Linked DNA regions of Homo sapiens. The protein of the gene in region 7 purifies or fractionates together with the protein of the main gene of each other region. This does not show direct contact. Each region holds a gene or a part of one and is shown on either strand. Other genes may lie near its edges. The genes, in order: GLO1, PSMD5, LGALS9, CTPS1, PAK2, AKR7A3 and GMPS.

Region 1 (3,500 bases), on a different chromosome or scaffold from region 7:
AGAACTTGGGGAGGGAAGCTATTACTTTTCATTTTGTATTTTTCTGAACTGGTCAAATTTTCTAAATATAGACATATATTACTTAAATTTTTCTCTCAATGTGAATGGAAGTTATCTAGGCACTAAATTTAAAGATTATTTTATTATTCATGTATCTATATGCTCAAAAGCAAAATGCTCACATAACTTAGGGAAACAAATCAACAATATGACAAAATTATTTCTCAATATACCTCAGTAAAGCTGGAGAAAAAAAGAAAAATAAACATGCTTTAGAAAAATAAGTATGCTTTAGGATTGCAAGATCAGTGGATATGACCTGTTGAGCAAAAGAAAACACAGCCTAGAAAAATAGAACAGATGGTCAGTTTTAAGTAAACCCATTGGTTTTCTGAGTAGTAAGTTCTTATTATCTATAACTTTTCTGAAGTAAACAAGAGGCTAAAAGTGGCCAGAACATCAAAAGGGGTCTGAACACATTAAGGATTTAGCTGGGAGCGCTCAGAGAAGGCAGACTGGAGAAAATGCAACTATTTGTGTCTTGTTTTGCCCTTTCAGGCTGGCTGGGATAGAGAAGAAAAAGAACTTACGAGAGAAGCCCTGTCCAGCCAGGCCTAATCACAGACTCCTGGCCAAAAGAACTTCTGTTACTTCTGAAACAAACTTTAAGATGGGTCTGAAAACACTCTCTAGATTTGCAAAGCTATATATTTAAACATTAAGGTGCCAATAAGTACTTGACTTACGTCATTCCAAGAACTCTAGTATAAAAATCCAGTGACTTCTTAGGATCCTTCACTCGTAGCATGGTCTGCTGCAATAGAAAATCCTATGGAAAAATATTTATATTAAACATCTTTCACTTTTACCATTTATTACCAACATTAATTGTGCTTTCTGTAACAAGATACAAACACAATTGTTAACCTACCACCTACAACTTGCAAGGGCTCTCTGCTCAGTGGTATCTTCTGGTTGCAGGCCCCTGTGTGATGCAAGTCCAAAGTGTCAGAAAGTTTCCACTGCAGGAATGACCTTCAACCAATGGTCGATAAAAAACCTGGCATCCCTGTCCCTTGGTGGGACAATTCAGAGGCAGGTACCACAAAGTCCCTCAAAGAATCCCCAGCAGGATTGAACCTCAGTTGCCCACAGTGGTAATCCACTCGTATACACCTATGATCACCCTCTCTCCCTAACTCTGCAGAGCTCTCTGTGACCACTTCTCAAAAACTTAAAACCACACCATTCTCTCTAGTCTGCTTTGGGGCTACCCAAACTAAGACACTGATTTTACACATAAAGAGGTTGATCACTACAATATTTGTTGAATGAAGGCATAAATGCCCTTCTAGAACCATTTACTGGTGACCACGCAAATTAGCAAAGAGTTACTCACAAGATCCTAGACTCCTAAATAACTAAAAGGGTAAAAAGTTACTGTTGCTAACACCTTTGGGAAATTCAACTTACTTATCAGGAAACAGAAGGCTTGACTGAGAAAAGGGTAGAAGGTATGTAAATTCATGGAGTTAAGATTATTAATAGCATTAATAATTCTACTTAGGACTTAACTAGGTGTAATAACTCTATATGGTATTACTGTCGATATTCATACCCCATGTTGTAGATGAGAAGCTGACACTGAGTAATTAACTGTTTAAGGCCTCTAAGTTTTGGTCTCCCTTTACCATTGGTATGTACCTTCCAGACCATAAGTCTGTGAACCTCACTGGTGCTTCCTAACAGATTTTTTTTTTTTTTCTGTTAAACCCATGGCTTGACAAAACAGGCCTGAAAATTCTGACCACTTACTTTGGAGCCACATGCCATCTTTCTCCTATATAACTCACATCATATAAAATACAAATATAGTTCATTCAGCCTCATTAGGAAATTATATTTTTCTCTTTTGCTAAATTTTAAGTAAATGAAACATACTCTTTTAGGCATTAAAATTCTCATTTAAAACAAAACTAGCCTAAAAACTACTTTATCTTATTAAAACTGATCTTAATAAATATAATAATTAAATTCTTTATTCGCAGCTTATAATCACATGCCAGGCAGGTTACATGTTTCTAGAACATTTGGGTTGCTTTTCTCAGTCAGATGCTACAGTCCTAAAGGTCTCGATTTTATCAAGCAGCTGAGAAAGAGAAAAGTAGCTCTGCACATCCAAGTGCTGGCCTGGTACTCACAGCTGGGCCTTGGTTTTCTCCTGTTGAACATATATAAAGTCACTCTGTGGCTGCCATGATGTGATACCAAAATAAAAAAAAAAAATTTAAAGCAGCAAGACCATGTCCACTTCATATTCCGGTCTAAGTATACATTAAAACAAGGCACTATGAACACTACCAAAATAACAAACATCCTTCTTTCCCAGCTAATATGAGTGGTAGCTGCTTCTCTATTGATTACAATGTTTGCTTGAGGAAGCCACCTGCAGGACAAAGTCTTATGTATGATCTGTCAGGCCCGACCACACACAATCACACAGACTTTAGCTGGCAGGCCTCATGGGGGAGATCTGTCCTCCCAGCACTGGTTCTCAGTCTCAGGAGGGAGCACTGCAGTCCCTGGAGGGAGGTGCAAGCAAGGACTAAATTCTAAAGATGTCCTTCCTTATTCTCTCAAACACTAACCTAGGTGCTGCTGTGAGAGACTCTGAGAGGAAATTAAGGTCACTCATCAGTGGACTTTAAAATGGGATTAGCCTGGATTACTGAGGTGGATTCAATGTAATCACACAAGACCTTAAAAGCAGGAGAGAGAGAGAGCGAGCGTGCGCGCGCAAAGAAAGTAGAAGAGGAGTGTGGCATAAAGGGAAGTGGGACAGATTCCAAGTGTGAGAAGGGGCCAACCTGCAGGTGCTGGCTCTGAGACATGGGGCACATGTGCCAGGAGTTAAAGGCAGCTGCCCTCTGCTCCCACCCCACCATACCCATCCACGCCTGACAGCCAGCAAGGAAGCTGGGACCCCTGTCCGACAGTGGAAAGAAACTGAATTCAGGGAACAATCTAAATGGATTTAGATGCAGATTCTTCCCCAGAGCCTCTGAGTAAGGAACACAGTCCTGTCAATACAGTGGGACAGACCCAAGTCGGACCTCTAGCCTATGGAATTATGAGATAATATATTTCCAACCAAGCTGCACCCAACATTATTTGTTGCTCAGTTTTTTTAAAAAAGGATAAAATCTAAAAACTATCTTTTAAAATCTGCTTTGTAGTGACCCTGTTTATGTTTTGTTTCTTCAACATCTTTCTAGTACCAACATTAGTATTGGTACTTTACCAACGACTTTATCATTACTTCTGTTCACACTATACAGGCTATACTCAAATCCATATATCTTAGGCACAGCATGTATTTTTTGTTGTAGATGCCATGCCAAGTACTTGCCAAAGTTAGACAACCTTAACTATTCTATCCCATAGTCTATCATATCCTTATCTTACAATCTTTCTGGAAAACAACTGGAATATCAAGAGTC
Region 2 (3,500 bases), on a different chromosome or scaffold from region 7:
AGAGAGCTATTTGAACACATAGGAATCTTTTTCTTTACACTAGGAGCTCCTTGAAGGAAAGTAATCAGTTTTGTTTATCTTGGTAACTCTAACAGCATATGGCACCATGCCTGGCATGTAAAAGGAACTCAGTCAGTATCTGATTAATGAATGATTTAGATGGTACTTAATGGAACTTCTTTCTTTAGCTTGTATCTCCCAGGTTATAGTTAGCTATGCACATTGGAATAGACCACACATTTCCTAGGGGGAAAGAGGGAGCAGAGGAGAGGGGGAGAAGGAAGAGGGAAGGAGAGAGAGAAATACTGTGCTTTCTTCATCTTTCTGTCCCAGTGCAGAACCTGGCCCAGAGCAGGTGGTCAATGTCGGTTCCTAGTAGAATTTCATACCTGGGAAAGAGTGAGGATTTTTACAGAATCATCAGGGTGAATTAGTCCCCTCTGCAGGTCAACCCTGAGGTTCCGGGCCACGTGAACCGGTTCCATAGCTTGGAGCAATCTCTCCAGAATGGATACACACAAAGTAGTCTTTTCCCTGAAGGAGACATCATAAATCTTATTAGTTCATATCCTGCCCAGGTAGGAAGTAACAACCTAATAATAGCTGAAGCTTGCGTCAGCGTCTCCTCCACACAGACTTCTTTTTGAAACAGCAGCTTTCACTCACCTACTAAACATTTGCTAAGTACCTATTATGCGCATTGCCTGTGCTGGGGCAACAGAGAAGAATAAGATATGCACTCTAGTCTTCTTTTTTTTTTTTTTTTTTTTTTTTGAGGTGGAGTTTTGCTCTGTCGCCCAGGCTGGAGTGCAATGGCCTGATCTTGGCTCACTGCAACCTCCACCTCCCAGGTTCAAGCAATTCTCCTGCCTCAGCCTCCCGAGTAGCTGGGATTACAGGGGCCTGCCACCATGCTGGGATAATTTTTGTATTTTTAGAGACGAGGTTTCACCATGTTGGCCAGGCTGGTCTCGAACTCCTGACCTCAGGTGATCCACCTGCCTCGGCCTCCCAAAATGCTGGGATTACAGGCTTGGGCCACCGCACCTGGCCTTTTTTTTTTTTTTTTTTTTTTGAGACAGAGTCTCGCTCTGTTGCCCAGGCTGGAGTACAGTGGCACGATCTCTGCTCACTGCAACCTCCGCCTCCTGGGTTCAAACAATTCCCCTGCCTCAGCCTCCCGAGTAGCTGGGACTACAGGTGCATGCCACCACACCCGGCTAACTTTTTGTATTTTTAGCAGAGACGGGGGTTTCACTGTGTTAGCCATGATGATCTCGATCTCCTGACCTTGTGATTCTCCCACCTCAGCCTCCCAAAGTGCTGGGATTACAGGTGTGAGACACCGTGCCTGGCCCGATATATTCTCTAGTCTTAAGGAGCTCAATACAATGAAAGATACAGAAAAAAAAGGCAACTGTAATCCAGATAAATAAACGCTATGGGCTAAGACTAGAAACTATAGGAGCTTAAAAAAGAACAGAGGGTACAGGGAAGGCTTCCCAGAAGGGTAACATCTAAACTAAATTTTAAGAAAAAGTAGGAGTTATCCAGAAGAAAAGTGTTCTAGGTAGAGGGAGTAGCAGCACATGAAAAGGCAGAGAGGAATAAGACATAGTATTATACTTTCAAGGAACAAGTAGTTTGGTATGATTGGGGTCAGAATGGGAGAGAGGTGGTGAGAAGGTAAAAGGGTGAGGTGAAGGACAAGAACTGAAACTGAAAAGATGCACAGAAGCCAGATTCTAACAGGTATTTTATGTCATGCTTGGAATTTAGACTTCTTCCAGAAAATCAATGGCAGGCCATAAGTGGTCTTAAAGAAGTAAAATGACGAGATCTGACTTATAGAATTCACTCTGCACCAGTGTTAGGGGAAGAATTTTCAATTACAAGGCAGTAAATGGTGAGAGGTGATGAAGGAGTAAACCAGGGGAGCAGCAGTGAGGATAGAGAGAAGAGGGAAGAACTATGTAAGAGAAACTGATGACTACCAGTGGTAGATACAGAAGATGTTTTCAGAACAATTTTCTTGTCTCTTAATAGACACTACAAATAAATGGGCTAATATATTGTTAGTAGTAGTACACAATTCAACTGATACAACCTTTTGGGTAGGTAACTACATGATACAAATGAAAAGCCTTAAAAATGAACATACTCTTTTAATTCAGGAATTTCACTTTGCATAATTGAACCTAAGGTAGTATTAAGAATGTTTTTATACCAAAGATAATTGAAAACATGCTATTTTCACAAAACTTGTACACAAATGTTCACAGCAGTGGAAACAATCCAAATGTCCACCAAGTGATGAAAGGATAAACATGTGTTATGTGCATATAATGAATATTATTCAGCCATAAAAAGCAATGAAGTAATGATACATATCACAATATGAATAAACCTTTAAAATATTATGCTAAGTGAAATAAGCCAGACACAAAAGGCTTCCTTTTGAGAATGATTCTGTTTATATGAAATGTCCAGAATAGACGAATCCATATAGAAAGTAGATTCCGCTAGGCTCGGTGACTCACGCCTGTAATCCCAGCACTTTGGGAGGCCATAGCAGGTGGGTCACCTGAGGTCAGGAGTTCAAGACCAGACTGGCCAACATGGTGAAACCCCATCTCAACTAAAAATACAAAAAAAATTAGCTGGGTGTGGTAGTGGGCGCCTGTAATCCCACCTACTTCAGGAGGCTGAGGCAGGAGAATCGCTTGAACCCAGGAGGCGGCAGTTGCAGTGAGTCGAGATAGCGCCATCGCACTCCAGCCTAGGCGACAAGAACGAAACTCTGTCTCAAAAAAAAAAAATAAAATAAAATAAAGTAGATTCCTGGTTGCCAGAGGCTGGAGGAACGGGGAAGAGGAGGAATGAGGATACTTACAAGTATGGTTTTCTTTTCCTTTTAAAAAAAAAATGTGATTACAGGTAAAATTTACCATTTTAACCACTCTTAAACGCACAGTTCTGTGGGAATAAGTACATTCACTTTGTTGTCCAGCCATCACCATCGTCCATCTCCAGAACATTTTCCTCTTCCCAACCAGAAACTCTGCATCCATTGAACACTCCCTATTCTCCCCTCCCCAAGCACCTGGCAACCACCATTCCACTTTCTGTCTCTCTAGATTTGACTACTCTAGGTATGTAAGTAAAAGCATACAACATTTATCCTTTTGTGTCTGGTTTATTTCATTTAGCACAACGTCTTCAAAGTTCATCTGTCAGAATTTCCTTTCTTTTTGAGGCAAGATGTACAATATCCCATCATATGTATATACCCCATTTTGTTTATCCATTCATCCCTTCATAGACACTTTGGTTGCACATGTGGGTTGCATTGCTTCTGTGCCTTTTAAAATTTTAGCCAATCTAATAGTGTGCAGTAGAATCTCACTGTAATTTTAATTTGTATTTCCCTATTTAATGTTGAATATCTTTCTACGTGCATATTTATCATCTGTACTTTTTTTTTTTTTTTTTGAGATGGA
Region 3 (3,500 bases), on a different chromosome or scaffold from region 7:
AGGGTAATTTGCAATGTGCTTACAAAACTATACCCTTAATAGACCCTGGATAAAGGCTGGAACGATGTCGCTGAAAAATAAATGTTACCAGTGACCTGGAGAGGAGGAATGGCTATAGCAGAGGAATGGAATGAGCTTGGAATTCAAAGACACACAACACCAAATAGCAACGTGATGACTCCTCTAGTTCTTATTTTCAGAGTAAAAGAAGCAGCAGGTGCACCTGTAGATTCAGATGAAGGTGCATAAGGAGACTAGGCAGCCATGGGTAACACCTCACAAGGAAATGAGCGTGTTATCTGTATAGTGGTGTCACTCTGGCTGAATGTCAATTTAGGTGATTACTTAAAGGCCATTCACCTGATAGGGCTGGGGGTCCCAGGGGTGAGAGGTGGGGAGGGGATTCTTGCTCACCTTGAAATCTGAGCTCTGCACCAGGAAGCAGAGGTCAAAGGGCATCCCCTTCTGGAAAGGCATGTGTGTCTTCCTCTCCTCGGGCCCCCAGCTTCCGTTCTGCCTCGTGTTGCACACCACGTACCCTCCATCTTCAAACCGAGGGTTGAAGTGGAAGGCAATGTCATTTCCACTGAAGCCAGTCTGAAAGTTCACAGCAAACCTAGGCCCAGGGAAAGCAAATAGTCTTCTGTGGCATGGATTATTGCCAGTGACAGGCACAGGAGGGCCTCGGCGCCTGTGCTTTGCATTTGTCTGGATCTTGCACACAACCTGTATGGCAGAGACTGCTTTGTTGGCATCGTTTTTGTTTTTCTAATTGGGATCTAATGTGTTTTTGTTTTAATTATTGGATTTTGCCTTTACAGCATGATTTGCTAAAAGCAAATAGAAAACGGTTAAGGAAAAGTGCTGGTATTAGCAAACAAGAAACATAGGTCTTGGAAAGTGATTACCAATTGATACCGAAGATGGAAGTTGTTAAGCACACCTAGAAGAGAGAGCCTTCTGTGCCAGTGGACACTTGTTGGAGGCCAGCACATGCCTGATTAAATGGGAAAGAAGAGAACAAATGTAAAGAGCATGTGAAATTGGGGCTGGGCGCAGAGGCCAAGGCGGGTGGACCACTTGAGCCCAGGAGTTTGAGACCAGCCTGGGCAACATAGTGAGAGCTCATCTCTAGTTAAAAAAAAAAAAATTGGCTGGGCATGATGGCTCACGCCTGTAATCCCAGCACTTTGGGAGGCTGAGGCATGTGGATCACGAGGTCTGGAGTTCGAGACCATCCTGGCCAACATGGTAAAACCCCGTCTCGACTAAAAATACAAAAAATGAGCCAGGCATGGTGGCATGAGCCTGTAGTCCCAGCTACTCAGGAGGCTGAGGCAGGAGAATCACTTGAACCCAGGAGGCGGAGGTTGTAGTGAGCCCAGATAGCGCCACAGCACTCCAGCCTGGTGGCAGAGCGAGACTCCATCTCAAAATAATAATAATAATAATTAGCTGGGCATCATAGTGCACTCCTGTAGTCCCAGCTGCTCCGGAGGCTGAGATGGGAGGATCACTCAAGCCCAGGAATTTGAGGCTGCAGTGAGCTATGATCATACCACTGAACTCCAGGCTGGGTGAAAGAAAGTCCCTGTCTCAAAAGAAAAAAATTAATTAATTAAATGAATAAATGGAGAAGATTGCATTTGAAATATATCTGCATGTATTTTTTCCTTTGGAGTCCTTCAGCTTCATCCCTGTAGTCCTTTCGAAATTCCTGCCCCAAGGAAGGGAGAGACAGAAAGCTCCCAAGAGGAGAGGGCCCTCTGAGGTAGGATCTGTCTCTATATGACAGGATGGGAGTGGGAAGCCCTCCTGGTGCTGGGGGGTGGGGGAGGTGGAGGGAGAGGGAGAGAGGAAGGGGCGGAAGATCAGGGTCATGGTCCTGATTCCCCTGGTTGGAGGGTTCAGGGAGATCGGGGCCTCCCTGCCCTTGGCATCTCCTGAGGGCACCGCAGTCTCTCAGAGAAGTCCCACAGCAGGATGGCAATGGCGGAGGAGGTCACCAAGAATCTAGGTGTCCAAGCTGAGGTTTAGCTGGGATCTGTGAGGCCCAGAAGGTCTTAAGGAGAGGTCCCCTGGGACTGAGGCAGAGAGGCTTCCGAGAGAGAGTCATGAGTCCAGAGGCTCTTCTGTGGGCCCCGCAGAGTTCAGCAGGCAGCCACCCATGGTCCCCCACTAAACCAGGAGAGAGCTGCACACCTCTGTGCCACCCGGTCGGGGTGCCTCGGCAGGGGTCAGCCAGGCCTGAGTGAGGGTCTAGAGCCCTCCCAGCCACTGAGAAGCCATGTGAGCTCTTCTCTGTTCCCAGACAGCCCACCTTGGGAGGGAGGAGGGGGTGGGAAACAGCCCTGATACAATGTTAGTATGTTGAATTGACTTAGTAGTTTCTAGAAAAGGCCTTGAAACCAAAAGAGACCAAATTACTTTTGATGGCAATTTTCAATATTTTCACATCAGCAGAAGGAGAGCTTCAGAGTGGATGAGAGCAGTTACGGGAAATGGAGGAAGTTTGATTTTTGCAACTCTTAGTCACAGTGTGCAAGGTTCAACCCAGAACATAATCATCCAACTCTGACCATCCCACGCCCTCCTTAGACCGTCAGCTCCCAGGGCCCCATTCATCCTGGAGTCCAGGTTAATGGCACCCCTGGGTGCAGGTTGTGCCTGTGGAGTGCTGCCCTGTGGCATGGGTTAGGGACGCATTGGGCCTCCCCTGAGCCAGGCACGTGAGCTTGGATGTTGCTGTTTGAACTAACCCAGGCTCACAGGCACAGTGGTTTACTAAGGGACGAGGCTGGAGTGAAACGTTTCCATCCATATACACACACACCTGGTTCCACTGGAGCTGAGAACGGTCCCATTGACAGTGATCTGAAGTCCGTCCTGGAGACCTCCTTGAATAGTCCCAGAAAAGGGGACAGCCTGCAGGGAGAAGGTGTGGGAACATCAGTCAGGTGGCCGGCCTCCCGTTTGCTCCCCTCCAGCGCTAGTCAGTGGCCAGCCTGGGTTTGACAGCCCCATGCAAGGGGATAGGGTGCGGCTGTGACCAGTACAGAGGGAGTCGCAGCCCCACGGGTCTTAGGGTCCTGTGTGGAGGCAAACACAAATCCAATTAGTTACTCAGACAGTCTAAGCTTGTGATAAGGAGAAGCCTGGCCCTGAGAGGACGCGACAGGGAGCTGAGCTTGTGTGAGAGTCTAAGAGGCAGTGGAGGCTGCAGCAGGAATGCACCAGGCAGAAGGCCTTCCTTCCAGGCAGGGAAGTAGCAGGCAGACACCCTGGGCTGCTAAGGAATTAGGTAGCAATGGGGGCTGCTGGACCCCATGCTAAGCTCCCAGCAAAGGTCCCAGGCCCTGGCTGGAGACTCAGGAAGCCCAAGGGACCAAAGGGACCCATCAAGGGTCTGGAGGGTAAACCTTCGACTCACCCGAGGAGGTTAAGAAGAAGCCATCCCCCTCTCCCCACCACCACCATATAACAATGGCCACTGTGACCTT
Region 4 (3,500 bases), on a different chromosome or scaffold from region 7:
ACCTGCCACGATGCCGAGCTAATTTTTGTATTTTTAGTAGAAATGGTGTTTTGCCATGCGGGCCAAGTTGGTCTGGAACTCCTGACCTCAGGTGAGCCACCCGTCTTGGCCTCCCAAAGTGCTAGGATTACAGGTGTGAGCTACCACGCCTGGCCTTGCCTTTTTTTTTTAAGAGACAAGGTCTTGCTGTGTCACCCTGACTAGAGTGCAGTGGTGCTGTCACAGCTCACTGCAGCCTGGGCTTAAACAGCCCTCCTGCCTCAGCCTCCTGAGTAGCTAGTACCTTAGGCGGACGCTACCATGTTCAGCTGTTTTATTTTTTGTAGAGATGAGGTCTTGCTATGGTTGCCCAGGCTGGTCTTGAACTCTTTGGGCTCAGGCAGTCTTCTTGCTTCAGTCTTCCAAAATGTTGAGATTACAGGCGTGAGCCGGCAATGCCCAGCCTTACTTACTCTTTTAATTGGAATGTTTATCTTACTGAGTTGACTTGATATAGTCTGAATACAAGTCTTTCATCAGGTATGTGATTTTCACATATTTTCTCCCTATCTGTGCCTTGTCTTTTCATTTTCTTCTCTCTTTTTTTTTTTTTTTTTTTTTTGAGATGGAGTCTTGATCTGTTGCTCAGACTGTAGTGCAGTGGCATGATCTTGGCTCACTGCCATCTCTGTCTCCCGTGTTCAAGCGATTCTCCTGCCTCAGCCTCCTGAGTAGCTGGGGCTACAGGCATGCACCACCACACCTGGCTAATTTTTGTATTTTTAGTAGAGACGGGGTTTTGCCAAGTTGGCCAGGCTGGTTGCGAACTCCTGACCTCAGGTGATCTGCCTGCCTCGGCCTCCCAAAGTGCTGGGATTACAGGTGTGAGCCACCGCACCTGGCCTTCATTTTCTTAATAGTGTCTTTTAGAGCACAGACACTTTTAAATTTCGATGAAGTCCAATCTGTTTTTTTCTTTTATGGATTGTGCTTTCACTGTCGTGTCTAAGAACTCCTTGCTCTTAACCAAGGTCATGAAGATTTTCTTGTAAAAGTTAGTTTTAGGTCTTACATGATCCATTCTAGGTTAACTTTTGTGTGTAGTGTGAGGTAAGGGTTGAAATTTTTACATGTGGATATCTACTTGCCTCAGCCCCATTTGTTGAAAAGACTATCCTTGGATACTATTCTGTACTTTTTAAAAATAAAGGTACATTATAGATTTACTAATCTTCATAAAGTTGTTTAGACTTATTTATAGCTATTCATAATTTTTATTACTACCGTGTATTTTTAAAAATTATATTTTCTGATTAGATAATACCCCATGTGTAGGAGACCCTGCTGACCTCTGTCCATTCATCTACAGCCTAGCAACCTTACTAAAATTCTATTAGTACTGATTGTTTACCTGTAAATTCTTTTGGTTTTTATGGATAAGCAGTGATATTGTATGCATTATTCAGTGGCAACCGCTTCTTGTTTTCTGGTTCATTTTTTTTTCTTATCTAATGATAATGGCTAATATCTTCAGTACATCATTGAATAGAAGTACTGAAAGTGGCCATTCTGGCCTTGTTCTGGACTTTAAATAGTAAACATTAATATTAAACCATGTGATGTTTACTGTGGGTTTTTTATATTGCCAAATTTTCCCTAATCTTAATTTACCAATAATTTTTATTATGAATTTGGTTTTGAATTTTTATCAAGTCTACATCTACTGAGGGAATTGTTTTCCTCCTTAATCTGTTTTCTATTTATGTGGTGAATTCCACTGTTAAATTTCCTAACACAGTAGTTCTCAAACTTGACTGCACACTGGAATCACTTGGGGAGCTTTAAAAATACTGATGCCTGCCTCCTACCCCACAAGATCCTAATTCAAGTGGTCTGGGGTGCAGCATGGGCTTTTGACCTTTTATAAGCTCTGAATGATTCCAATATGCAGCTGAGTTTGAGAACCACTGTTCCTAGTTAAGCCATTCATAGGTTCGTGGACATGATTTTTTTAAAGCTACATTTGTGATTTGGATCATGAATTATTATTATTATTATTTTTAAGACAGGTTCTGGCTCTGTTGCCCAGGCTGGAGTACAGTGATGCGATCTTGGCTCACTGCAACCTCCAACTCCCAGGCTCAAGTGATCCTCCCACCTCAGCCTCCCGAGTAGCTGGGACCATGGGCACATGCCACCACACCCAGCTAATTTTTTGGGTGTTTTTTTTTTTTTTTGAGACAGAGTCTCACTCTGTCACCCAGACTGGAGTGCAGTGGCACAATCTCAGCTCACTACAGCTTCAAGCTCCCAGGCTCAAGTGATTCTCCCACCTCAGCTACCCCCCAGTTAGCTGAGACTACATGCACATGCCCACCATGCCTGGCTAAATTTTGTATTTTTTTGTAGAGACAGTGTTTTACCATATTGCCCAGTCTGGTCTTGAACTCCTGAGCTCGAGCAATCCTCCTGCCATGGCCTCCCAAAGTACTAGGATTATAAGCATAAGCCACCTTGCCCAGCCATGAATTTTTTTTAAAGGACTTTTGCATCCATGTTCATAATAGATTGGCCACTAATTTTCTATTCTATTCTTGAGTCTGTTTTAGTAGTTTATCTAGAAAATTGTCCTTTTTTCTGTTTTCAAATACATAATATTTTTACAAGGTCACGTAGCTAGTAGGAGGCTGTAAGCCTGGTGAGTTTTTGCTTTTATTTAATAACTTGCTTTTTTCTAAACAGGTGATCTGTGTCCACGATGTCTCATCCATCTACCGAGTCCCCTTGTTGTTAGAGGAGCAAGGGGTTGTAGATTATTTTCTTCGAAGACTTGACCTTCCTATTGAGAGGCAGCCAAGAAAAATGCTGATGAAATGGAAAGAGATGGCTGACAGGTTTGCCTGCAATGAGGAGCTGGGAGTGCTAGCCTCCTTTACTCTTTTGTAGGGCTGGTGAAGCCGACTCTAGCCCTAGCACTTTTGTACTTTTGCACTTCTGCCATCCACTCATTAGAAGAGCCTTTGTAGTAAGAGATGTTCAGAAAGGATCTTAGCTGTCACGTAGCTGTGGCACAGATGAGGAGATCCTGATAGGGCCAGGCCAGGTGCCGGGCCTCCAGACAATGAGTTCGGGTTATGTCTTAACACGCTTGTCTCTTACCAACTAGATCAGTGCAGATGGGCGTCCTGGTGGCAGCGGGTGAGTGTGCATATCCAAAGCCCACACGAATGGCTGACAGTGGCTGGAGCACTCCTGGGTACCACTCCAGAGTTCTGAGCTGTGTTTGGGAATGTGTCTCACCCCACACCAGAAAGGGATCACATTAGGACGGGGATGTGTTGCTGCCTACTCCACTACATCCTTTTAAGGCTCGGTGATGCTGTCACATTCCTTCAGAAATCTTCACTTCGTGTCTTAGAGCAATGGGCAGGCCTTATCTTAGTTGCAAGATCAATATGATGGCCTAGAAGCATTTGGAGAGGGCATACTCATTCCGTTGCTCTGTGAGAATCATTTTTCAT
Region 5 (3,500 bases), about 41 Mb from region 7:
CATATCATCATCTAAATGTTACAATAGCATCTCATAAAATTCAGAAGCCATTCCTATTTTTTGTAAAGCAGAAACAGAATAAAATAATAATCTTTCTCTAAATCCAACAGCTGCCATCATCCCTAACTGTAAAAATATTAATACCAGAGTCATTTCAAGACAACGACACGTCTCTTGTTTAACCAAGTCTTGGAACTTCAGGCCAATGTAATAAAGACCTAAAACAGGGTTAAGGGCTGGGCACGGTGGCTCATGCCTGTCCAACACTTTGGGAGGCTGAGGCAGGCGGATCACGAGGTCAGGAGATCGAGACCATCCTGGCTAATACGGTGAAACCCCGTCTTTAAAAAAGAAAGAAAAAGAAAAAAAAAAAAGGTTAAATATTGTAACCATAGAAAAGTGACTGAAGTTACTATTATTCTCAGATAAAACAATGAACCTGGAAAACAAAATAAAGACGTTTACTGAAGTCCAGTAAGATAATAAAAATACCAATGAACAGAAAAATCTAGTTACTACTTCTTCTTTTTTTTTTTTTACTTAGAGATGGAGTCTCGTTCTGTTGCCCAGGCTGGAGTGCAGTGGCTTGATCTCAGGTCATTGCAACCTCCGCCTCCCGGGCTCAGACAATTCTCCTGCCTCAGCCTCCGGAGTAGCTGGAACTACAGGTGTGCACCACCACACCCAGCTAATTTTTTGTGTTTTCAGTAGACACAAGGTTTCACCACGTTGGTTAGGCTGTTTCCAACTGCTGACATCAGGTGATCCACCCACCTAGGCCTCCCAAAGTGCTGGGATTACAGGCGTAAGCCACTGCACCCGGCCAAATATTTTTATACCTGTATTTTATTTCTGTAGCAAAACTATTTTAAAACTCTTTTATCCCCACCAGGCATGAAAAAATTCCAGAAAGATTAAGATTGAAACACAATGGGCTGGGCACGGTGGCTCACGCCTGTAATCCCAACACTTCGGGAAGCCAAGGCAGGCAGATCACCTGAGGTCAGGAGTTTGAGACCAGCCTGGCCAACATAGCAAAACCCCGTCTCTACAAAAAAAAAAAAAAAAAAAAAATCAGTTGGGTGCGATGGTATGGTGCCTGTAATCCCAGCTACTCGGGAGGCTGAGGCAGGGGAATCACTTGAACCCGGGAGGCGGAAGTTGCAGTGAGCTGAGATCCAACACTGCACTCCAGCCTGAGTGACAGAGTGAGACTCTGTCACAAAAAAAAAAAAAAGATTGAAACACAATAATTATTAAAAGTACCAGAAGAAAACACATAAGAATGTTTTTTGTAAAGGTGGAATGAGGAAGATCTTAAACAGAAGGCAATAGATTAATATCTATTACATGTGAAGAGCTTCTACAACTCAATAAGGAAATATACATTACAAGTCTTTTTGGAATGCAATTCAAAAAAAAAAGAAAAAAGAAATTTAAATGCACACTTACAAGTCGTTTTAATGGAAATACTTATCTACATATGCATGTGCACAAAGACATACGTATAAGTTCATTAAGGCTCTAGTTTTAGTTGCTCAAAGTTAGAAATAACATAAATGATCACAAATAATTAAAGTACTACCATACAGCATAATATCTAATGACTTAAAAAGTAGAGGTGCCACTATATGTCATGATATGGAAAACAATACTTAATGATCAGATTTTTTATTTTAAAATCAACATAAAAAGTATCCGACACACAAAAGGTACTACTTATTTCTAACTCAGTAAGTAAAACTATTAACAGCGGGTAGGTACTTCTAAGGAATGGGACTAAAAAGAGAAAGTAATTTTCACTTTTTAAGAATTTTATAAGACAGGGTCTTGCTCTGTCACCCAGGCTGGAATGCAATGGTGCAATCATAGCTCACTATACCTCCAACTCTTGAGCTCAGGTGATCCTCCTGCCTCAGTCTCCCAAAGAATTTTCACTCTTTAAATATTTAATTGACTTGTTTGAACCTTTTATAATAAATATGTACTGCTTTTAGAATTTAAATTTAAAATAAGGAACAAAACCACTGTTCCAGTTTGTTACAATGGTTCTGCCAGCTGAGACTAAGGTAATTTTGTCTTAAAAGTTTTTACCACTTTCCAAATTTCTTATTTAATATTTTTTTCTACTTTTATTTTTGTCTGATTTAAGAGATGGGGTCCCCCTGTATTGTCCTGGCTGACCTCAAATTCCTGGACTCAAAGGATCCTCAGCCTCCCAAGTAGCTAGGACTACAGGCACCACCAGCCACTGCCCACTTTTCAACTTTTATACAGGAAATATGCATATTTTTAAATCTGAGAAATTTGTGTTCAAAAACCCTATGTTTTATTTCAGTGGTGAAACTATTACATATTTTTTCTCCTGAAAAATTACATTTTATTCATCCAAAAGTAATTTTTATTTTTAGTTACGGTCTCAGAAACTTCGTTCTTTTAGAAGGCAGTTTTTTGTTTGTTTGTTTGTTTGTTTTTGAGACGGAGTCTCACTCTGTCACCCAGGCTGAAGTGCAGTGGCGCAATCTCAGCTCACTGCAGCCTCTGCCTCCTGGGTTCAAGCAGTTCTCCTGCCTCAGCCTCCTGAGTAGCTGGGATTACAGGCGCCCGCCACCACGCCCAGCTAATATTTTTATTTTTAGTAGAGAATACTAAATTCTCTACTAAAGAATAGTAGAGAATATAGGTTTCACCATGTTGGCCAGGCTGGTCTTGAACTCCTGACCTCAAGTGATCGGCCCACCTCAGCCTCCTAATGTGTTGTGATTACAGGTGTGAGCCACCGCACCCGGCCTAGAAGGCAGTTTTAATTCTAAGTTTAGGAGTATCGACTCTACAGCATGTAAGAACAGACTATTAACTAACGTTTATTAAGACCTATAATTACAGAATCCTTTACCTGCATTCCCTCATTTGATCTAAATATCCCTGTGAAATTGGTATTATTATTATTATCCCCATCTTACAGGTGAGAAAAGCAAGTCTTGAAAAGAATGTATATCTTGCCCAGGGTAAAGTAGAACAGCAAGAATTCAAACGCAGGACTCTAGCTCCTAACCACATGGGATACATGGAGTAAGTACTAAAGAAACTCAGAGATAGTAGGCTGGAACACTGAAATCCTGAATGAATGTTCAGACTGACTACCCTTAACCAGGCAGGTGACCCTAGAAGGGAAGAAGTGATGAAACTCAACTCTGATCACAGAAGAAAACAACCAGTATTTTATTTTTTGGGGGCAATGAGGGATTTTTTTCCTTTCCTATTCTGCTCTGTTAAGGCACAAAAAGGATACTAGGAAGAGCTTGGACACACAATTTGCAATTAACACCCTCCCTCTGATTAGTCTGGAAACTCAACTCTTATACCAAACTGATGGAAACCTTTACGACTTAAAGTCTTGAAGTTGACCCAGTTTCTTTTTCTTTTTCTTTTTTAATGAGACGGAGTCTCGCTCTGTAGCCCAGGCGGGAGTGCAGTGGCGCGATCTCGACTCACTGCAA
Region 6 (3,698 bases), on a different chromosome or scaffold from region 7:
TGGGAAGGGATGACTGTACTTTGCAATGTGAGAAGAACATGACATTTGCGGGGGGGTGGTACTGGTACAATGATATCATCAGGGTATTTTGTCCCCTCCAAATCTCATGTTGCAATGTGATCCCCAATGTTAGAGGTGAGCCTGGTGGGAGGGGTTAGGGTATGGGGGCAAATCCCACATGAATGGCTTGGTGCCATCTGTATAGTAATGAGTGAGTTCCAGCTCTATGAGTTCACACAGGATCTGGTTGTTTAAAAGAGCCTGGAATTTCCTCCCCTGTCTGTCTCTTGCTCCCTCTCTCACCATGTGACACGCTGGCGCCGCTTCCCCCTCTGCCATGACTGTAAGCTTCCTGAGGCCCTCACCAAGAGCAGATGCCGGCACCACACCCCCTTGTACAGACTGCAGAGTGGTGAGCCAAATAAACCTCTTTTCTTTATAAATGACCCAGTCTCAGGTATTCTTTTATAGCAACGCAAACAGACTAACACACAGCACCCTGGGAGTTTTATTCTTCATTTGGTGGTGACTCTTCTATTAGGTTTTTGTCCAAATACTTCCATCCCTAAGAATTTACTGAGGCAGTTCTAAATTAAAGAAAATGTGAGTAACAAAAGATGTTACAGAAGAGCCTTGGGCAGCCTGAGAAACGATGGGCCTAGCGGAAGTAGTTGGGACATTCGTGAGTAACCAAATGCCAGGCTTGATTAAAGGCGTCCACGACAGCCGGCTCCAGGGGCCCTTCCTCTGCCGCTGCCAAGTTCTGCTCCAGCTGCTCCAGGCTGGACATGCCCAGGATGACCGCGTCCCCGTGGGCACCCTGCAAGGGAGACGGCCAGACTTCAACCCTCTTCTGCTGCACAGCGACTCTACTCACAGCCGTCCCAGCCACCTCCCTGCTGAGATTTGGGATCTCTTGTATCCCATATGTCCAGAAAGAACTTAAGGTGCCTTGGATAGCTGTACCCATGTGACGCAAAACCTGTATCCCTTCCCCTACTGCCACACGACGCTTCCAGACAGACCTACATTCACAGCCCAGTTCTGCCCCCCAGCAGCTGTGTAAACGCGGCTAAGTTATTAAACCTCTCTGAGATTCAATCCTCTTTTCTATTTTCAACATGGTTATGGGTGTGAAAAATTATGTAGAGCACTTAGCTCCCATTTATTGAGCACCTACTGTATATATGCCAGACACTATTGCAACATCTAAGGCTGGAGTTGGATATAAGTGAGGAAGACATGAGGCACTGAGAGAGGGAAACTCCAGCTCCCACCAAAAGGATGAGACTAGTGGGCTTTACAGTTAAACCTGTGTTAAAATGTCTGCCCCTTTCATAGCTGGGTGAAACTCAGTTTCCTCGTCAATAACACTGGGATAGTCATTTCATAAAGCTGAAGGAATAATGAAATCCCTGCAATGAAGCTCTCATTACAAAGCCTGGCACTCAGATACCATCAAAGACCAATGAGAAGGCCGAGCGCAGGGGCTCACGCCTATAATCCCAGCACTTTCAGAGGCTGAGGAGGGCGAATTGTCTGAGTTCAGGAATTTGAGACCAGCCTGGGCAACATGGTGAAACCCTGTCTCTACTACAAATACAAACAATTAGCTGGGCATGGTGGCGCACGCCTGTAATCCCAGCTACTGGGGAGGCTGAGACAAGAGAGTTGCTTCGGCCCAAGAGGCAGAAGTTGCAGTGACCCGAGATCATGCCACTGCACTCCAGCCTGGGTGACAGAGTGAGACTCTGTCCCCCCAAAAAAAAAACATAGAAAAAGACCAGTGGGAAGAATGTTTGTGAGAGTTGAAAGAAAGAGAAATTTCAGAGGAATCGATAAACAAATGTTTCAGCCTTCATCTAAAGATATTGCTGGTTCCCCTGGAAGGGAAGAAGCTGAGCGCACAGGGTCACTGGTTACCTGCAGCTGTGAGTGGTGGTACATCCACCGGAGGGTGGCCGAGGTCATGCTGGGGGCGCTGGCGCCATACGCGGCCTGCAGGGCCTTCTCCACCAGGGCAATGCCCTCAAAGTGGTGCTCCTTCCAGTAGCTGGGAAGGGGGGACGGTGGCACAGGTGTCAGGGCCACATTGGGAGCCACAACCAAAGAGCCAACCAGGGCCACTGTCCCACCCCACACCCTGCAGCCCTGAGGGGCAGGTGTTCTCTCTAGCCATGGGTCTCCCACTTTGCTGGGCAAGAGAACCACTCAGGATGCTGGGCCCCTCAGCAGAGACCTCAACAAATCTTTATTCCTGAGGACTCATCAGCCTGCTCTTATTTTCCTTAGGGACACAAAGGCCGCTAAGATGGGTCAGGACTCAGCCCCAGGCCTCCTGGACCTCCCTCCAGAGCTCCTTCTTTCCTTCCTAGCAGGTGATTGCTCAGGAAAGAGCAACGACTTCAAGACCCCGAGGTCCAGGGAGTCTCCTTTCCTCCTGGAGGTCCCAAGACAACAAGAAAACCGATGGAGGGTTTGGAAATTCCCGAAGAAATTCAGGGGAGTAGGTGCAGCAGCGAGGAAAGGCCTTACCCCAGGAGCAGCCCAGGACTTCATTCCACATAAAGCTGACCCCACCCCAGCCATCCACACCAAGCACCCACAGCTTACCGATTCCTGTACATCTCTGCCCAGGTATTCCCAAAGAAGCGGCCCACGGGCTGTTTCCCATTCTTGTCCTCATACTTGTACTTGCCGGTCAGCAGGCCCCCTGAGGGAAAGCAGCAATCAGCCCCGGGGCCTAGAGTGCCCCAGAAGCTGCCACATCCCTCAGGGCTCTGGTCTAGGGGAGGGGCAGGGACCCAGGAGGGCTGAAGATGCAGCCTTTACGTCTTTGACCTCAGAGGTCAAAGTTTGTCAAACCCTCCTTGCTTCCCAGGTCCTGGGCTGGGCATCTGTGGGTCGGGAATAGGCTGAGACAGGGCCAGGAATGCTCCACGTACCAGCCAGAGGGTTGAAGGCATAGAACCTCAGTCCAAAGTGCCTGAGGCAGGGGAAGAGCTCCGTTTCCACCTGCCGGGTGATGGCATTGTACATGCCCTGTAAGGAGAGGGGCCCCGGGGGAGAGGGTGGATGTGTCAAAAGAAGAGACTTCAAAATTACCCTTCCAGAACCCTTATTTCAGACCTTAACAATTCTAGGACTTTAACCGTCTGGGCGTATACTTATTCTAACTGGTGCTGGTGAAAGAAGCTTATGCCCATGGAAAATTCATTCATTCTGCCAACTTTCATGAGCACCAACTATGGGCTGGTTGTCAGATTTAGATTCTTAAGCCAAAAGGACAGGGTCCCTTCCCTCAAGGTTTTATAATAAGGTCAAGTATAAACAGTTATAATCAAGTCATGAGGCAATCATAATAGACTAGAAAGTTCTGTGACCAGTGCCTGGCACCAAGCAGGTGTGCAAATATTTGTGCAATGAATCATGAGGAGGTAAACAAGGACCTGAGGTCTCAGGGTCTTCTGGGCCCATCTAGAAAGGCTTCCAGAGGAAGAGACACGTATGTGAGACCTGAACCATTCTCTCACGGAAGGGGCGGTGGTGGGGGAAGGGCTTGTTCCAGGCTGAGTGCAGGGGAAGGTAGGGAAGGAAGGGTCCAAGGTGCACAGATAGGCAGGAAGGAAGCAGATGCCCAGTGGCCAGCCTGAGGAGCTTGAATGGCATCCTGAGGGTACCTGGGAGCCATCTGCAGG
Region 7 (3,500 bases):
CCACTGCACTCAAGCCTGGGCGACAGAGCGAGACTTCATCTCAAAAAAAGGAAAAAGAAAAAAAAAAGAATCTTGGTGAACTTTAGATTTATTTGCTGGGGTCTTTTTGATGAATTGGAGTTTAAAAATATTCTTCCCTGTTTGCCGGTTTTTTTCCTAATTTGGATAAGGGAATCTTTGTACAGGGAGGGACTGTTCCAGTTTTACTGTCATATATAGTGTGGGTAAATACCTGTCCCAGTACACTCTAGTGATTACTTTTGTTTGTAAGAAATGAGAAGGTGAAAAGAGCAGGTTCATGGCATTCTCTTAACTTTCTCCTGTAAAGATCTTTTATGAACTTTAGGAACTGTATTGTTTAGAAAAATTATAACTTACTGTCTATACGTGGGACAAAAACCTTGCTTCTGTTGTAGTATGTTTGGAAGGAGACAATAAAGTAGTTGGTGATACCGGTGGTTTTGTGCTAATATGGTTTTCTATTGTGTATTTTACCTAAGTACATATTAAGAAAAGAAGAAAAAACATTAAACTTTACCATGATAGTTTCCGGGGAGATTTATTTTCTTTGCTAAAAACAGGACTAACGAAAAGTGAATAGGGAGAACTAGCTAAGTGGCACTCATATCTCTACCCTGATTCCCTCTTGTTTTCTGGGTGAAGATTGTGAAACAGATCCCTTCAAACCAGTGGCCAGCTACACTTCAAGTTGTTAAAATTGTCTGATTCTAATTTCCTCAAGTTATGTTCCAAACTGTACTCTCATTAACTCAAGATATTTGTGGTGTATCTTCATGTCTTTCAAACAGACATTTATATAAAACACTAATGAATCATTTTTTTGGAAGGAAGTAGTAGGATACTAAGTCCTATTTCAATGGCCTTTTTAATGAAGTGCAAATGAGAATCTCTCTAGAATGATTGTTTCTCAAGTAGAGAAAAAAAGATGAGTTTACTAATTTTGGGAAATTCACTGTAGTTTCCTCTTGGAGATTTCCAGTGCATGTTAGCATAGTATATTAATAGTTTCTGAAGTCTTGTCATAAAGACACCTATTTTTAAATTTTAATTGTGTATTTGTTTCCTAGGACTACCCATAACAAATCACCACAAACTAGGAGGCTTAAAACAACAGACATTTATTCTCTCACAGTTTAGGAGGCCAGAAGTCTGAATTCAGTGTTGGCAGGGTCATATTCTCTCTGAAGACTCTAGGGGAGGATCCTTCCTTGCTTCTTCCTACTATCGAGTGGTGGCAGCATAGTCCAGTCTGTCTTTGTGTTCACATGACCCTCATTCCCCTGTGGGTATCTGTGTATCCAAATTTCCCAGCACTTGGAAGGATACCAGTCATTGGATTAGAGCCCATCCTAATCCAGTATTACTTCATTTTAACTTGATTACATTTGCAAAGACCCTTTTTCTCCCCAGAGATTCTGGGTGGGCATGAAGTTTTGGGGATACTCTTCGACCCAGTACATTAAGTGAAAAGAGAGTTGTAATAATCACTTATATCTTTGCACATTCTGAGATACAGAATATTCCAGAGAACACACTTTGAGGAAAACACGTAGAACACAGACCTTCCTATAATCTTATATCTTGTCCTATCCATCTGGGGAGTTGAAGTGGGCAGGAGAAGGGCCTGAAACTAAGTGGGAAATGGAAAGAATGTTACTGTTCTAAGTGCCTTGCTTCTCATACTAAAATGTAATTTCTACATTTGAAATGTAATTGCTGTATTATTTTTACCTCTTTGTTTCCAGAGTTGTTTATATATTTGGCCCACCAGTTAAAGAACCTCCTACAGATGTTACTCCCACTTTCTTGACAACAGGGGTGCTCAGTACTTTACGCCAAGCTGATTTTGAGGCCCATAACATTCTCAGGGAGTCTGGTAAGTTGCTCATGTTTTTGATTACTACCCTCTGAAACTAGTTTTTGGAAGCTTGATATTAAGAGTAGGAGGATGTGGCTTTTGCTTTTTAGATGCTTTTGTTTTTATTATTTAAATCTTTGAATGTTCTATGATGTTGCTTTTTTTTCTTGAGACGGAGTCTGTCTTGCTCTGTCGCCCAGGCTGGAGTGCAGTGGCACAATCTTGGTTCACTTCAGCCTCTGCCTCCTGTTACAAGTGATTCTCCTGCCTCAGCCTCCCGAGTAGCTGGGATTACAGGCACCCGCCACCACACCTGGCTAGTTTTTTGTATTTTTAGTAGAGATAGGGTTTTGCCATTTTGGCCAGCTGATCTCGAACTCCTAACCTCATGTGATCAGGTCAGGAGTCAGGTCAGGCCAGCCTTGGCCTCCCAGAGTGTTGGGATTACAGGCGTGAGCCACTGCACCTGGCCTATAATGTTGCTTCTAAATAAAATATATTCCCCTTTGTGGCCATTTGTGGACATGCACAGAGCAGCAGAAAATTTGAATTTCCAGACTTAGATGTTCCCAGCTGAGTTTGAACAAGGTGACGCTATGCCTTCTTGTTTTCAGCTCTCATAATGTGAACAAGTCTTTTTCATGGTCTCCTTGATGCTATATCTTTTGCATTTTTATGTCTTTTGTTGGTGATTTTGCTGTTTAAAATGGATCTCAACTATAGTGTTGAAGTGCTGTCTGGGTTCCTAAGCACAGGAATGCTGTGATGTACCTTACAGAGAAAATCTGTGTGTTAGATAAACTTCATTCAGGCATGAGTTAAAGAGCTACTGATTGTCAGTTCAGTGTTAATGAATCTATAATAAATATTAAATACAGTGTCTTAAATCAGAAACACATAAAACAAGGTTATATATTAATCAGTTGATGAAAATATTACAACCAGAGGCTTGCAGGAACCTAACCCTCCATTTCCCCTGGGAGAAATGGTTCAGTATTCGCTAATTCGTTGTTTGCAGTGTAGAATATAACTATACTGCAAATTATAATAGAGAATAATGAGACTGGACTGTTTCTGTTTACAGCACATCAGTGAAACATCACTGATGTGATCAAATTCTGTTTTTTGCATTTGTGATTAAGTCCATTTAAAATGCTCTGCGAGTAGCTGAAATCAATGCATGATGACAGTCTTAACTACGCTGTGTGTGTATATGTGATTTCAGATATTGCCTGGGAGGATTTAATTGAACTGAGTTAGAGTGCTTTTCTATGGTGTGGTGATTGGTTCTACATATACCTTTCTCTAGGGTATGCTGGGAAAATCAGCCAGATGCCGGTGATTTTGACACCATTACATTTTGATCGGGACCCACTTCAAAAGCAGCCTTCATGCCAGAGATCTGTGGTTATTCGAACCTTTATTACTAGTGACTTCATGACTGGTATACCTGCAACACCTGGCAATGAGATCCCTGTAGAGGTAATTTATATATTTTTTTCTAATGCACGTTCTCAGTACCTCTTACATTTTATAATATGGTGAATGGAATAGGCTATGCCAGTGCTGTATTTCTTATGTTGGTTTTCTGTTCATAAGATAGGCTTTTTTTTTTAAATTT

Evidence for each region.
Region 1: the proteins of GMPS (region 7) and GLO1 fractionate together in Homo sapiens (co-fractionation; one large-scale study listed by BioGRID). This does not show direct contact.
Region 2: the proteins of GMPS (region 7) and PSMD5 fractionate together in Homo sapiens (co-fractionation; one large-scale study listed by BioGRID). This does not show direct contact.
Region 3: the proteins of GMPS (region 7) and LGALS9 purify together in Homo sapiens (co-immunoprecipitation; one large-scale study listed by IntAct). This does not show direct contact.
Region 4: the proteins of GMPS (region 7) and CTPS1 fractionate together in Homo sapiens (co-fractionation; one large-scale study listed by BioGRID). This does not show direct contact.
Region 5: the proteins of GMPS (region 7) and PAK2 fractionate together in Homo sapiens (co-fractionation; one large-scale study listed by BioGRID). This does not show direct contact.
Region 6: the proteins of GMPS (region 7) and AKR7A3 purify together in Homo sapiens (co-immunoprecipitation; one large-scale study listed by IntAct). This does not show direct contact.

What each region holds. Positions count from the first base shown.
Region 1 is NC_000006.12:38,686,146-38,689,645, forward strand, and holds part of GLO1 (lactoylglutathione lyase), read right to left. Parts: intron 830-3,500; coding exon 747-829; intron 1-746. UniProt on the Homo sapiens protein: Catalyzes the conversion of hemimercaptal, formed from methylglyoxal and glutathione, to S-lactoylglutathione. Involved in the regulation of TNF-induced transcriptional activity of NF-kappa-B. Required for normal osteoclastogenesis.
Region 2 is NC_000009.12:120,832,923-120,836,422, forward strand, and holds part of PSMD5 (26S proteasome non-ATPase regulatory subunit 5), read right to left. Parts: intron 535-3,500; coding exon 390-534; intron 1-389. UniProt on the Homo sapiens protein: Acts as a chaperone during the assembly of the 26S proteasome, specifically of the base subcomplex of the PA700/19S regulatory complex (RC).
Region 3 is NC_000017.11:27,637,688-27,641,187, reverse strand, and holds part of LGALS9 (galectin-9), read right to left. Parts: intron 2,926-3,500; coding exon 2,834-2,925; intron 617-2,833; coding exon 415-616; intron 1-414. UniProt on the Homo sapiens protein: Binds galactosides. Has high affinity for the Forssman pentasaccharide. Ligand for HAVCR2/TIM3. Binding to HAVCR2 induces T-helper type 1 lymphocyte (Th1) death.
Region 4 is NC_000001.11:40,993,196-40,996,695, forward strand, and holds part of CTPS1 (CTP synthase 1), read left to right. Parts: intron 1-2,721; coding exon 2,722-2,873; intron 2,874-3,500. UniProt on the Homo sapiens protein: This enzyme is involved in the de novo synthesis of CTP, a precursor of DNA, RNA and phospholipids. Catalyzes the ATP-dependent amination of UTP to CTP with either L-glutamine or ammonia as a source of nitrogen.
Region 5 is NC_000003.12:196,742,857-196,746,356, reverse strand, and holds part of PAK2 (serine/threonine-protein kinase PAK 2), read right to left. Parts: intron 1-3,500. UniProt on the Homo sapiens protein: Serine/threonine protein kinase that plays a role in a variety of different signaling pathways including cytoskeleton regulation, cell motility, cell cycle progression, apoptosis or proliferation.
Region 6 is NC_000001.11:19,282,073-19,285,770, forward strand, and holds the end of AKR7A3 (aldo-keto reductase family 7 member A3), read right to left. Parts: intron 3,043-3,698; coding exon 2,946-3,042; intron 2,714-2,945; coding exon 2,614-2,713; intron 2,054-2,613; coding exon 1,924-2,053; intron 821-1,923; coding exon 659-820; 3' UTR 501-658; downstream 1-500. UniProt on the Homo sapiens protein: Catalyzes the NADPH-dependent reduction of various carbonyl-containing compounds, including aldehydes, ketones, and toxic products from cellular metabolism or environmental exposure.
Region 7 is NC_000003.12:155,933,150-155,936,649, forward strand, and holds part of GMPS (GMP synthase [glutamine-hydrolyzing]), read left to right. Parts: intron 1-1,766; coding exon 1,767-1,897; intron 1,898-3,188; coding exon 3,189-3,361; intron 3,362-3,500. UniProt on the Homo sapiens protein: Catalyzes the conversion of xanthine monophosphate (XMP) to GMP in the presence of glutamine and ATP through an adenyl-XMP intermediate.